2 linked regions of the Homo sapiens genome follow. The protein of the gene in region 1 interacts with the protein of each later gene in a pairwise test. Each region holds a gene or a part of one and is shown on either strand. Other genes may lie near its edges.

Region 1 (7,069 bases):
TTTCTTATCCACCTAAATGCACCCAGCTGCCCTTGATTTTCTCTGGGCTACTGGCCTTCACAACCCTCTCCCATGTACCCTCTCTGACTTTGGGGTAACCCTCCCCTAACTTAAAGCTAGAGAATTCTGAAACTGAGGAGGGGATCCTCTGTTAATCAGTGAGCACTTTTTGATGAGCTGATAGATGATATATGAGAGACTATGCGTGGCACAATACTTTGTTACACTCTTCACTGATACAAGTGTTCTAGAGTGTACACACAACCCAAAGATAGAAATAAAAAGAGGAGCAGTGTCGGGGAGCTTGGGGCCTGGTGTTCCATGGAGAGGGAGAAAGGAACAAGCTTGACCAATTCATTCAACTCCTTATAAAAATGATGAGGAGGCTGAAAACCAAGAATTTTGATTGGGAACAGAATACAAGCAGCTGAATCAGATGAATTACTAAGCAACAAAGATCCTGTTTTTATACAAATATCCTTAGTACAAAAACAAAAGAAGGAAAACTGTAGGGGGGAGTAATGTGCTAAGTAAGCAGAATTGCCTCAAAAAGAAGTTGTTCTAGTTACTCTTTCAGAGTGGGAATCTTAGATTCTGGTATTGTGGATATGGTTCACATATAATGGGATTGTGTGTTTTATTTTGGAGGGATTAAAGGTCATAGTTTGGTCCTCAGTATAAAATCAACTGGTAATTTATTCATTTCATTTGGTAAAAATGTATTGACTGCCTGCTATGTTCTAGGCACCATGCTATGTATTTGGAATACAGCTATACAAAGCATTGTCACATAATTGAAATGAAAATTTTATATTATTTAAGTCACAAGAACAAGCTATTTAATTATATTACTTTTAGTTTCTCTTTTAATAAAGAATAGATAATGCTATCATTCTAGATACTAAATAAGTATTTTCTTAACATAATATTACTATCCACTTTATCTTGTAGAAGAAATAACTAAAATACATCTGTCTTCACTCCTGTATTTGTTTGCATTTTAAGGATTAAAGACAGAAATAGAAATGTAAACAACTTTATTTTGAAAATATTTCAACACTGCAAATATCTCTGGGTCTGATATTCTAGTAATCTAATTGGCTAGTAATTGATGTTAGTGTGATTTATTGTTGAAGGCTAAATGTGTTTTTCAGTTTCAAGAAAATTGCTTTTAATAATTGCCTAGAACAAGAGGTTGATTTGGCAGCAAGATGTTGACGGGAAGTTAGAGAAGTCAATAAAGGAAGTTTTTAGCTGAGAGAGAGTGATTATTCACTCCCATAGCCTCTGCATTGTTATCCATTAGCCACGATAAGAACCTTAGGGAATTCTGAGAGTGTGTCCAGGAAAGGATCTGTCAAACTAGAATAGTATCTCCTCCTTGAGAAAGGAAATAACCAAGGATTCCGCAGCTGAGAGGCTGCCAGGGCTAGTGAAATAGAGTAAGGAAATCTTGGCTGTCTCTTATTCTCTGGTTGTAGTTTAACGCAAGACACTTATTTACTCACTGATGGTGTGTGTGTGTGTGGGAGGGGAGATTAGCATGAGGGGTGGGAATGGGGAGATTCGATGAAGAGAAAACTAACATTTTTTTGGTGACTCAGGAACTGTGCCAGGTACTTCCATGCTTATTAGCTCAATTACACAAAAATCTTGGGACCAGGTATTATTTTTCAAGTCTTCCCACATGAAGTAACTGAAGTTTGGAGATGTTAAGTGATTCACCCAAAGTTGTACAGCTAATATGTGGTTAGGCTGGGTCCTGAAACCGAGGCAGTTTATTTTCAAAGCCTTTGCTTTGTGCATCTTACTGCGCCACATTGCACTGCACATCTGCTTCCTGAAAGCACTTTGTAGGTGTGTAAAACTTTTCGTTAAATGCTTTAAGCTGTTTGGGTTAAAAATATATGTTCATGTTATAAGAAAACCAAGACACTCCTAATTATAATCAAATAGTACTTGTTACATATCAATATGTGTGTGTGTGTGTGTGTGTGTGTGTGTGTGTGTGTGTGTGTGTGTGTGTGTATGGCGTTGTGCAGATGTTTAAAAGTAGTTACATAGACTAGTTCTTGCTTTTCAGGGTCCCATAATCTAAACCAGATGACTTCAGCTTTGGATAAATATATAGAAGGAAATTTAAAGAGAATTCAAAACAATAGATGATGCAGTGACACTGTGAATAAATGTTATTTATACAGTTTGTAAGATTTCATGCTCATTGTTCATATGTCCCAGGTGGAGTTCAGAAAATATTCTCTTCATTTCCACAAAGGGGAATAGTGCCTGGAGATGGTTTTCTTTTAAAAAGTCCTTTTCATAATGCAGTGCCCTTCCTTCCATTGCCCTTCATTCCATTGCTTCCCATGCTTGTCAAGAGACTAAAATGTTACTTATAGTAATAGTCACTATCTCAATGTAAATAGCACCCTTATTTGATGAGAATTATTATTTCAGTTCTAAAAATGGGGAAACAAAGTCAGCAGGAGGCAAAGTAGCTTGTTAAAGTATTCTGCAACTTTCAAATGGTTGCTTCCACTGCATTTCACGTCTTGGCACTTCTAATTGAGGGTTACTCTAACCACCCTATTTAAAATTGTAACTGTCCCCCACCCCCTTAATTACTAACCCTGGTCTACTTTTTGTTTTCTTTTTCTGTAACTCTTATCTTCTTACTATATAATTTATACTATATAATTTACTTCATTATGTCTATTGTTCATTGTCTGTCTTTTCCAAATTCTACTGCCTCTTACCCTCTCCAGAATGAAAACTAGTATCTTTGTTTTTGTTTACTGATGTAACCCAAACACCTACAAACAGTGCCCAGTATATACTAGGCCCACAAATATATATTGGCTGACTGACTGTATGGTTTAGTATCATGTCATAGTATTGAGACTGTAACTTTGGTCTTCTCATTTTCTTCTTTGTATTGTGCGTCCTAGACTTAGTTTGGCCTCTCCTTTTGTCCTTGTATACTCTAATACTGGATAAGAATTTTGGAGTCTTTTTCAACTCTGAGTCAGTGAATGCCACATAACTTAGTGACTATATTTAAATGGTTAATTTACAATTTTTTCCCTGCAAAGGATACTGTAGTCACTGTGAGTATTTTAGTATTATTGTAGGACTCAAGAGGGAATTAAAACTACAAAAATGACTCCTCTTGTATGACACAGAAAGAAATGTTTCTTCACAGAGGGAGGAGAAAAATATCTTCAAGAGAGAACTAATAGAATCAAATCAATGAACCATGTCTCATCTTTTTGGATAAGTAACTGTTAGTAATCCAGACACTTCATGAGCTTTCATTATGTAAAGTCTTTAGCAGAAGCTAAAGGAGGGGCACCAACCACAGTAATTTTAACTTAAGAACAAAATGGAGCATGAAAATAAATTATTAAATCATTTACTCCCACTATTTTTGGGTTAGGGCCAATAATGGGGAGAGAAAGAGGTAGACTAGTTTTGTGTTTGTGGCTATTTTAATAGAGTAGCACAAGTAATCAAAAAACAGTAGGCTGTTTTGAATTTACTGGCTGTCCCTTATGAGTTCACAGTTAGATTGGACTGTCCTCAATGTACTTTCTTTTTTTTCTTTCTTTCCCACATCTCTTTATTTCTCTGATTTTGTTTAAACTTCATAAAGAGCTCTCTGATCTTTCCTTTCCAAACAATGAAGGTTTATCCTTTGTAAACTACCTCTGTACTCCACAGGCTGATGATATGTGATATCCCTATATCATTAAAGTAAAGCCTAAGCACATTCTATGGCTTTTGTGTCTACTCTGTTGTTGCTGAGCTTATGAACTATTAGAAATAACTCCCTCTTGCATTTTCACACATGGGGAATGTGATGTTCTCTTGGGTATTATGCTAATCATATTTTGGCAGGTTTCTCTGGAGCAGATGCAGAAATGATCATACCACTTTCCAGGGTGTATTATTTTAGCTCCTTTGACTTGGGCCCTAAGTCTGTTTTACCTGATGTTCCTGAAAGATGTTCCTGATGTCCTTCACTGTTCTTTCATGCTGGATGTTCTTGCCTATGCTGCCTCCTCAGCTATCACCCTCTCTTCCCCTTTTTAATGTAGAACTCATTCTTAATGATTTGTCAAAGGCACCCTATTTCACTGAAATGCCTTCTATATTCCCTACCCTCCAAGTGGATTGTAGACCTTCTAAGGTCTTTTGACATCTGCATATCTCTAGCACAGCACTTATCACGGTGATTATTTATCTGTTCATCTTTCCAAGTAGACACTCTCATTTTAACTCCCTACCCTAGTCGCCAGCATCCCCAGCATAGTGCCTGTCATAAAATGGTGCCACAATGAAAATTTGAAAAATGAATGAACGTGATAAACATAGATGAGAATCCTATATTCTACAATTTTTTAAATGTACTGAAATTATTCTTTTTGAATCCTCCTATTTATTTCTGTGACTTCTTTGATGACAAAGTTAGAAAAAAGTGGAGGTCAGTAGGGAGATATGAAGGGACGCAGGTGGAAGCAGTGAGCCTGGGCGGGTGATGGAGTGGGAGATACGTGGCACAGGGGTCAGTGAGTTAATCTGGGCTCATTCAGAGAATGGAAGGTGTGTGCCAAGAAAACTGGTTGGATAGGGATAGGTCAGGGATTCCCTCTTGCATTCTCACACTTGGGGGCATGTGTCATTTTCTTTTCTTTTCTTTTTTTTTTTTTTTTTTTTTGAGACGGAGCATCGCTCTTTCTCCCAGGCTGGAGTGCAATGGTGCTATCTCGGCTCACTGCAACCTCCACCTCCCGGGTTCAAGCTATTCTCATGTCTCAGCCTTCCAAGTAGCTGGGACTACAGGTGCCTGCCACCATGCTCAGCTAATTTTTGTATTTTTAGTAGAGATGGGGTTTCACCATGTTGGTCAGGTTGGCCTCGAACTCCTGATCTCAGGTGATCCACCTGCCTCGGCTTCTCAAAGTGCTGGGATTCCAGGCATGAGCCACCATGCCTGGCCGCATGTGTCATTTTCTTGGGTGTTATACTGATCGTATATTTGCAGGTTTGCTTTTGTGACAGACTTCTTCTGGGGGAAAAAAAGTATCCTTCTATCTTTTTACTTTTGTCCAGTTCCAGGTATCCCTGTTTTTTTCTTCACTCTTCCTTCCTTGTTCATGGGAGTTTTTCTTGAGGACTTCAAGCCCAGCTTCGGAGAATCCTGGTTGTGTCATCTCATCTCCTTTCTGCTCTCTTCTCTACCTAGCCTTTCCACCCTCACACCTCCCGGGGTCTGAAAATGGAAAGATAAGGGTGTTTCCCTGAAAGTTGCTCTTCTGTGTGGGGATGACAGGTTCTAAAGACTCTTTTCTGGTCCCTGCCCTCATTGCCATGATTAATCAGTTAAGTGGCCCGAGGTTTTATAACAGCACAGTCTTAAAATGCTTCTCCCAAGTTTAATTTCTCTCCATTTGACCTTTTAAGGATGTGAATTGGCTTTAAGCAGTAGACTCCCTTTAGTACGGTGCTGTGAGCCTCTCAGTGAATCTGCTACATCCATTCCACCCACGGGTCTGGAAACTTGTCTGTTTACCTTTCCCTAAAAACCTAAGATATATTTTTAAGAAGTGCCTTGTAACTTTTCATATAGCCTTTCCCCTACTTTGGGTAGACTGTTTCTTACAGGAATTTGGTAGATCTTTCCAAAGAGAATTCTGTATCTGTATTTTTAAAGCATAAATCCTGTCAACTTTGGAGGAGAACTGATTTGGCTTGAGTTTTCTCAGACATGGGAACTTTTGACCTAAGTTTGTATTTTACATTGTTGAAAGGGAACTCCGGGATCCCAGAAAACATATGGACTGCAATTGGGTAAAGTTTCTGTTCCAGAAATGCCTCTTCTGGACATTTCATACAAATGGAAACATGCAGCATGTAGTAATTTATGACAGCTTCTTTCACTTAGCATGAGGTTTTCAAAGTTCATTGATGTGGTAGCATTTGTCAGTACTCTGTGCCTTTTTATGGCTGAATAATATTTTATCATATGGATTTACCACATTTTATCATTTTATTTATCCATCATCAGTTGATTGACATTTGAGTTGCTTCTACTTTTTGAGTATTATCAATAATTCTGTTATGAACATTCTTGTATAATTTTTTGGTAGACATTTATCTTCATATTTCTTGGATATATACCTAGGAGCAGAATTGCTGCGTCAGATGGTAATGCTGTTTAACCTTTTCAGGAACTGTCAGACTGTTCTGAAGTGGGTACATTATTTTACATTCCAACCAGCAGTGTATGAGAATTCCAGTTTCTCCACATCCTCATCAACAGTTGTTATTGTCTGTCTTTTTTATTATATTCATCTGTAATGTGAAGTGTTTATCTCATTGTGGTTTTGATTTACATTTCCCTGATGGTTGATGATTTTCAACATCTTTTCATATACTTATTAGTCATTATGTATCTTCTTTGGAGAATGTCTGTTCAGATCCTTTACCTACTTTATAATTGGTTTATCTTTTTAATATTGAACTGTAATAGTTTTTAAAAAATATATCCTAAATACAAGTCTCTTATCAGATAATATGATTTGCAGATATTTTCTGTCATTCTATGTACTGTCTTTTCACATTCTTGATGATATACTTTTCAGCCCAAATGTTTTTAACTTGATGGAATACAATTTATTTTTTCTTTTGTTGCTTGTGCTTTCAGTCATATTTGTGAAAACTTTGCTTATCCCACATTACAAAGATTTACTATTTCTAAGTGATTTATAATTTTACCACCTACCTTTAGGTCTCTGATCCATTTTGAGTTAATTTTTATGTGCGAGGAGGGAGTCTAACTTGATTCTTTTACATGTGGATATTTAGTTGTCCCAGGACCATTTGTTGAATTAAGTGCCCAGAACAAGTACATCTATATATAGAGAAAGTAGATTAGTGGTTGTCAGAGACTGTAAGAAGTGGGGAATTGGAGAGTGACTGCCCATAGGTACAGGCATGCTTTTTGGCATTATGAAAATATTCTGGAATTAGGTAGTGGTGATGGTTGCAGAACTTTTGGAATATGGTA
Region 2 (6,953 bases), on another chromosome or scaffold:
TACTGCATAGATGTAATTCCAGCAAAAAGCAAAGAAACAAGACATCTTACATAGCTTGTGTGGTCTTACCAAGGGAAAATTCATGGTTTGTGTTCATCTTTTGAAATAGTAAAAATAACTCGTGAGTTTCATTTCTACTTTCTTGGAGCCCCAGTCATTGCAGAATCTACCACAGCCACAGATCCCATTTCATTCTCTCCTGCCCCCTGAGGCTTTTATCCTTATCCTCATTTTCAAGGTGAAGAGACTGACGGCAGGTGTAGTTCCCAGCCTTTTCATAATTTTTCATTCACCTCTTTAAATGGCAATTGGGACCTGGGGCAGTGGCTCACGCCTGTAATCCTAGCACTTTGGGAGGCTGAGGTGGGAGGATCACTTGAGTCCGGGAGTTTGAAACCAGCCTGGGCAACACAGTGAGACCCCATCTCCACAAAAAATTTTAAAAAGTGGGTGAATGTGGTGGTGTGTGCCTACAGTCCTAGCTGCTTGGGAGGCTGAGGCAGGAGGATCGCTTGAGTCCAGGAGTTCGAGGATGCAGTGAGCTATGATCATGTCACTGTACTCCAGCCTGGGTGACAGAGCGAGATCCTGTTTCTTAAAAATAAATAAATAACGCAATTGGGTTTTAGCTGGAAAAAAGCAGTGAAGGAGGAGGGAACCTATGACTCTCAGGCTCCAAGATGACGTGCCTGGTAGCTGCCAGATGTTCACATGCCTGAGGGTTTGTTTTATTTGCAGAATGTTTTAGCTGGTGCCTTGTTTGGGCCATGGCTGGGGCTTCTGCTGTGCTGTGTGTTGACCTCGGTGGGTGCCACATGCTGCTACCTGCTCTCCAGTATTTTTGGCAAACAGTTGGTGGTGTCCTACTTTCCTGATAAAGTGGCCCTGCTGCAGAGAAAGGTAAGGGGAGGGGTCACATCTGAGAGCTGGGACCCCAGACAGTCGCTACGTGCATGGCCTTGAGAGAAGCGAGTGGCAGGGATTTCCCACAGTACTCTTCCACGCTGTTTCAGGAGGTCCTAGGGGTTCTTTTGATGTCTTCAGGAGACATAGACCTGGGATCAAATCCCAGCTCCATCATTACCAGCTCTGTGACTTTGGGCAAGTTCTTGACTTCTCTGATCCTCAGCATGTCTATTTTAAAATGAGGAAAACAGTCTTTCCCTGGAGGGTTGTTGGAAGAATTGGGAACAGATTATGTAAAGTGTCTAGAACAGTGCCTGGCACCAGCAGGTTTTCAACACCTGGAGACCCTTTCTGCTTCTTAACAGCTTTCTTCTCTTTGGCTACAGGTGGAGGAGAACAGAAACAGCTTGTTTTTTTTCTTATTGTTTTTGAGACTTTTCCCCATGACACCAAACTGGTTCTTGAACCTCTCGGCCCCAATTCTGAACATTCCCATCGTGCAGTTCTTCTTCTCAGTTCTTATCGGTAAGATGCTAGTGGGGTAGGTTTGAGTCTTCAGAGCTGTCACGCTGGGGGTCTGCCCTGGGTTATTGGCCACGTGAGCATGTGCCTGCTTCTGAGAACACAGGCTCACAAAGTGTGACTTCAAGCCTTATGATCTAAAGAAATGATTCCTGATTTCAGATCTGCTCAGGCTTCAACATGAAAACCCATAAAAATACTTTTGGACTAAATAAAGATTGTCCATTGCATGGCTGTATGCACTAGGCACTGGGATTAGAAGAGATGGTCTGTGTAAAGTATACAAATTGGCCCATAGTAAGTACTCAGTAAATGCTAGCAGGAAGAGCAGGGTTGGAATGAGGGTGTGTGTCCATGAGTTTTGAGTGGGGACAGAAGAAAGGAGCAGAGCAAGGGACTTCCTGTCTGGTTTTTGGCCCCTGTTTTGATTAAGTTCTGCCTTAGGAATTGCTGGCATCAGTGTGGTTCCTTCCTGCCTTTTGACAATTGCACAACCTGCAGCAAGCTACTTACCCTCAATGGACCACCTGGCTAGGAATAGAGCAGTGTTTCTCAAAGTGTGGGCTTTGGGCCACCTTCATCAGATTGTTAGGGTCAGGGGGCTTGTTGAGAATCTAGATTTGGGGCCTACTCCAGACCTACTGAATCAGAATCTTGGGAGTGGAATCTGGGAATATGCATTTTAATCCAGTTCCTAGTCAGTCATTTTCAAACTGCAAACCCAGTCATTCTCAAACTGCAAACCTATTAAGAATCGCCTGCAAACCTATTAAAAATCACTTGGAGGCCGGGCTGAGTGGCTCACACCTGTAATCCCAGCACTTTGGGAGGTTGAGGCGGGTGGATCACTTGAGGTTGGGAGTTCAAGACCAGCCTGGCCAACATGGTGAAACCCCATCTCTACTAAAAATACAAAAATTAGCCTGACATGGTGGTGTGCGTCTGTAATTCAACTACTTGGGAGGCTGAGGCAGGAGAATGGCTTGAACCTGGGAGGCGGAGGTTGCAGTAAGCTGAGAGGATGACACTTCACTCCAGCCTGGGTGACAGAGTGAGGCTCCATCTCAAGAAAAAAAGCAAAAAAACAAAAACAAACAAAACAACAAAACATCACCTGTGGAGATTTTAATCCCTAAGCTAAGGCTACACCACACATCAACTAAATCATCTCTGGGGTAGGACTCAGGGATCAGGATCTTTTAACATTTTCCAGGTGATGCAAGTAGTTAGTCCCTAAAAGGGATTCCGCTGGATCCTGAGTTTTGCAGTCTACTGAATTAGACGATATCTAAAGTTTCTCCTTGCCTTTGACAATTATATGACCTGCAGCGAGCTACTTAGTCTGAACGGGCTACTCGTCCAGATAAGGGGCTGGGACTAGAGCAGTGTTTCTTGAAGTATGGGCCTTGGACCACCTTTATCAGAGTGGTAAAGTGCTAACATCCTATAAAATCAGTGTTTGCTACTTTCTCCATACTGGAAGAAAACCACCCTCCTTAAGCCTAAGGCAAGGATCTCTTCTCTTAAACCTCCCTTAGATCCTAGAGGGAAAGACGATTCAGGGCTTCTAGGTCAAACAGAGCAAATCTGTGGTTGAGCAGCTGCTATTCATAGGAGATACCTGAGAGAAATGGAGATCTTAAATAGAAGCAAGATCTACCACGGCCAATTTTGGTCATATTGGCTTTCAGACAAAGTGCCTCAGGCCCTCAGCTAGTGGGGGTTTGCTGCTTCTAATTACCTAGGTGGCATGAGGCTTGGCAAGATTCTGGAGACCAGGCTTCCTGTCCTCTGTCTCACAAGCTGTGTGACCCTGAGGGGTCTGGGATCTTCATCTCCTGTATACTTCCTCTCCTATAGAAGAGAAATGGACTATCAGAGTGTTCCAAACCAATCGGAATCTCAGGGTGGGAGTGGAGAAGGGGCTTTTAAAATACAGGTTCCTGGGCACTACCCCAGAACCAAGTACCCAGAATTTCTGGGGTGGAGCCCAAGGATGTGGTTTTTTAACAATGTCACCAGCTGATTGTTCTGCAGCCAGCCTGTTCAGCCAGCCAGACTTTTGGAATCCAGTGGATTTGATGACATCTTTGAGACAGTACAGAATGTGAATAGTACTTCTTTTAAAAAACTGTTTGTCAACAATGGCACTTCTCTCTTTACTTTGGCTGTTGGGTACTCAGAACCAAATTTGGGGCCCACTTTTGGCAAACAGGTGAACCTTATGCATTTTTTTACTAACTGTACTCCCTGATGTCTTGTATTCTTCTGCACGCATTTTGCTTTTCCTATTTAAAATTTTATTTATTTATTTATTTATTTTTGAGACAGAGTCTAGCTCTATCGCCTGGGCTGAAGTGCAGTGGTAAGATCTTGGCTCACTGCCACCTCTGCCTCCCAGGTTCCAGTGATTCTCCTGCCTCAGCCTCCTGAGTAGCTAGGATTACAGGCACATGCCACCACACCCGGCTAATTTTTGTGTTTTTAGTAGAGACGGGGTTTCACCATGTTGGCCAGGCTGATCTCGAACTCCTGACCTCAGGTGATCCACCTCGGCCTCCCAAAGTGCTGGGATTACAAGCATAAGCCACCATTCCTGGCCCTATTTTAAAATTGTCTTATAGTAGCATGTATTATTTGTGTAAATATCTCAAGTTCTTTTGTTGAACAAGACAGGCATATATGGGAAGTGAGGAAAGGAGGGAAAATAATAGAAAAGAAGGAAAGAAGGGAAAGAGTTAATATGTATAAGGGTCAAGAGTCAAGCAAAAAAAAACCGTAGTCACTGTTCCTGGTGACATTCTGAATTATTATTTTCTTAATTTTGCTGCTGCTTGTAACAGGTGCTTTGTCCTTTTCTTCTTCCAGGTTTGATCCCATATAATTTCATCTGTGTGCAGACAGGGTCCATCCTGTCAACCCTAACCTCTCTGGATGCTCTTTTCTCCTGGGACACTGTCTTTAAGCTGTTGGCCATTGCCATGGTGGCATTAATTCCTGGAACCCTCATTAAAAAATTTAGTCAGAAACATCTGCAATTGAATGAAACAAGTACTGCTAATCATATACACAGTAGAAAAGACACATGATCTGGATTTTCTGTTTGCCACATCCCTGGACTCAGTTGCTTATTTGTGTAATGGATGTGGTCCTCTAAAGCCCCTCATTGTTTTTGATTGCCTTCTATAGGTGATGTGGACACTGTGCATCAATGTGCAGTGTCTTTTCAGAAAGGACACTCTGCTCTTGAAGGTGTATTACATCAGGTTTTCAAACCAGCCCTGGTGTAGCAGACACTGCAACAGATGCCTCCTAGAAAATGCTGTTTGTGGCCGGGCGCGGTGGCTCACGCCTGTAATCCCAGCACTTTGGGAGGCCGAGGCCGGTGATTCACAAGGTCAGGAGTTCAAGACCAGCCTGGCCAAGATGGTGAAATCCTGTCTCTAATAAAAATACAAAAATTAGCCAGGCGTGGTGGCAGGCACCTGTAATCCCAGCTACTCGGGAGGCTGAGGCAGGAGAATTGCTTGAACCAAGGTGGCAGAGGTTGCAGTAAGCCAAGATCACACCACTGCACTCCAGCCTGGGTGATAGAGTGAGACACTGTCTTGACAAAAAAAAAAAAAAAAAGAGAAAAAAAGAAAATGCTGTTTGTATTTTGTGGTCTAATAAGGAGTTCGGGATAGCCTGTTGTATTTGCCTCATGCCAGCCCCTGAGCTGCCTTGGGAGAAGATGCTGATTGTCCTTGTCCAGAGTACTGCTTTTGCAGAGTGACAGGCTGCTGGGACAGATGTCCTCCTGTTGCATCTTTGTGGATGTTTAGTACCAATGATGACACGGGAACTCACATCACTGACACCGCTCTTCATCTTCTGTTAGTCTCTTGAAGAGCATTTTTTTGTACTTCTTTGCTGATGACCTACCTCTTCATAAGCCAAGTGAAACAAGTTGACGAACTGCCTAGGACTTCCACGTGTTGCTCACATACATGATGATTTCTGTCACGCTCTTGTGTTCAGACACACTGACATTACCATGTATGTCAGACCTCCTTATGATCGCATGTCCTGACAGTTAAGCTGATTGCAAACAGACTATTAAATATGAATGGAGCAAACGCTGTATGTCATGGATATGTTCTGGAGAAATTCTTACCCATCTGGATGGGGCAGGGCCCTTGACTCACCTGAATCATGACCAGGCAAACATTTTATCTGTCCTTTCTGCAGGAATCCGTTCTGTGTCATGCTAGGAGAATGGGTTCAGTATATGGGGCCATCAGGCAGTATACCCTCTGAATGTTTTTCATTGTTGTATTTGCTTAGAGTAACTAAACAATTGTATCTTTTAATTTATCTTTTAATTCAAAGAGGAAACCTTGGCTTCTGATAACTTTGTTGTGTTGTATCTTAATGGCCTATAGCTGTCATTACTTCCTGTAGCTGCAGTACAGAATTGTTACAGACCTGGATTAATGCTTCCAAAGACAGAAGGACCTTGGCACCTAAACTGACCAGCCCTGTGATCCTGCACCCCACAGGAGTAACTCATCAGGACTTACCAGACTGCTGCTTTTGGGCATCATCTGCTGGGTTGATGATTTGGTTTGGCCAAGAGTCTTGCCAAGACTTTAATCTATGCCTCTTGTTCTACATGAATTCTTGGGAATTACTCACGTTCCATAGGAAGAGTGCATCCCCAGGTGATGGTTTTTGGTTATGGTATGATCCTTTCACACCGAGGATTTCATTGTTTAAAACGTGTTTCTTTAAAAGAAGCCTTGATAACGAGAGTGGGGGAAGGAGGCAGCAGACTTTGAAGACTGTGGCCTTTGGTGTTCTGGAGTAGGGGGAGGGAAGGAGAAACATGTTTTCCACATCATCGCAAGTGTGTGCCCTTTGCCCCTTTTCAGGATCCTTAGAGTTGCCTCCCTCCCTCCACCCCGACAGTTTTGCAATAATGTGCCTTATCAGTTGTGAGTTTACAGGTGAAGCAATTTCCCAAATAAATGGATGTAAGTGTTCTGTGTGGTGCTTGTTTGAACATGTTGCTAACTTTCAACTACCTTTGCCAGTGGGAATTAGGATTGGCTGAAAATTGGACAGTCCAAAATGGTGTTTTAAGCTTTCCACTCTCAATGCTTCTTACCAAAATAATTTCTCAGAAGCCAGATTTTCATCTTCATTTTCTCTCTCTGCTCCCTGTATAGTGGGGTCAGTAGTAACAGGAGTAGCTACCGGATGGGCAGCAGGAAAGCATAGGGAAGAAGCAGAGTGCCAGTCTAGCTTTTACAGAATACTCAAGAAGAGGCTGTCACCAAATAAAATGATGATTGCCCCTTCCTTTCGTGGCTGTGTCAAATACAAGAATCGCAGAAACTAGCTTTCTCCATTACCTGCTTTTTGTGGCTGCAGGAAACCCAGTCATGGAAAGTCTTCCTTTCCCTCAAGTTCTGACAAATGCTGAGATTATTAAGGCAGCTCTCAGGGCACAAACAGTACATTTAGAAAAAGACAGGACTAGA

Evidence for each region. Proteins that work in one complex are often made in the same cells at the same time.
Region 2: the proteins of NOTCH2NLA (region 1) and TMEM41A interact in binary tests that used the Homo sapiens proteins (3 or more experiments, as listed by UniProt).

The regions. Positions count from the first base shown.
Region 1 is NC_000001.11:146,148,966-146,156,034, reverse strand, and holds part of NOTCH2NLA (notch homolog 2 N-terminal-like protein A), read left to right. Parts: 3' UTR 1-7,069.
Region 2 is NC_000003.12:185,489,101-185,496,053, reverse strand, and holds the end of TMEM41A (transmembrane protein 41A precursor), read left to right. Parts: intron 1-738; coding exon 739-900; intron 901-1,292; coding exon 1,293-1,431; intron 1,432-4,296; coding exon 4,297-4,517; 3' UTR 4,518-6,453; downstream 6,454-6,953.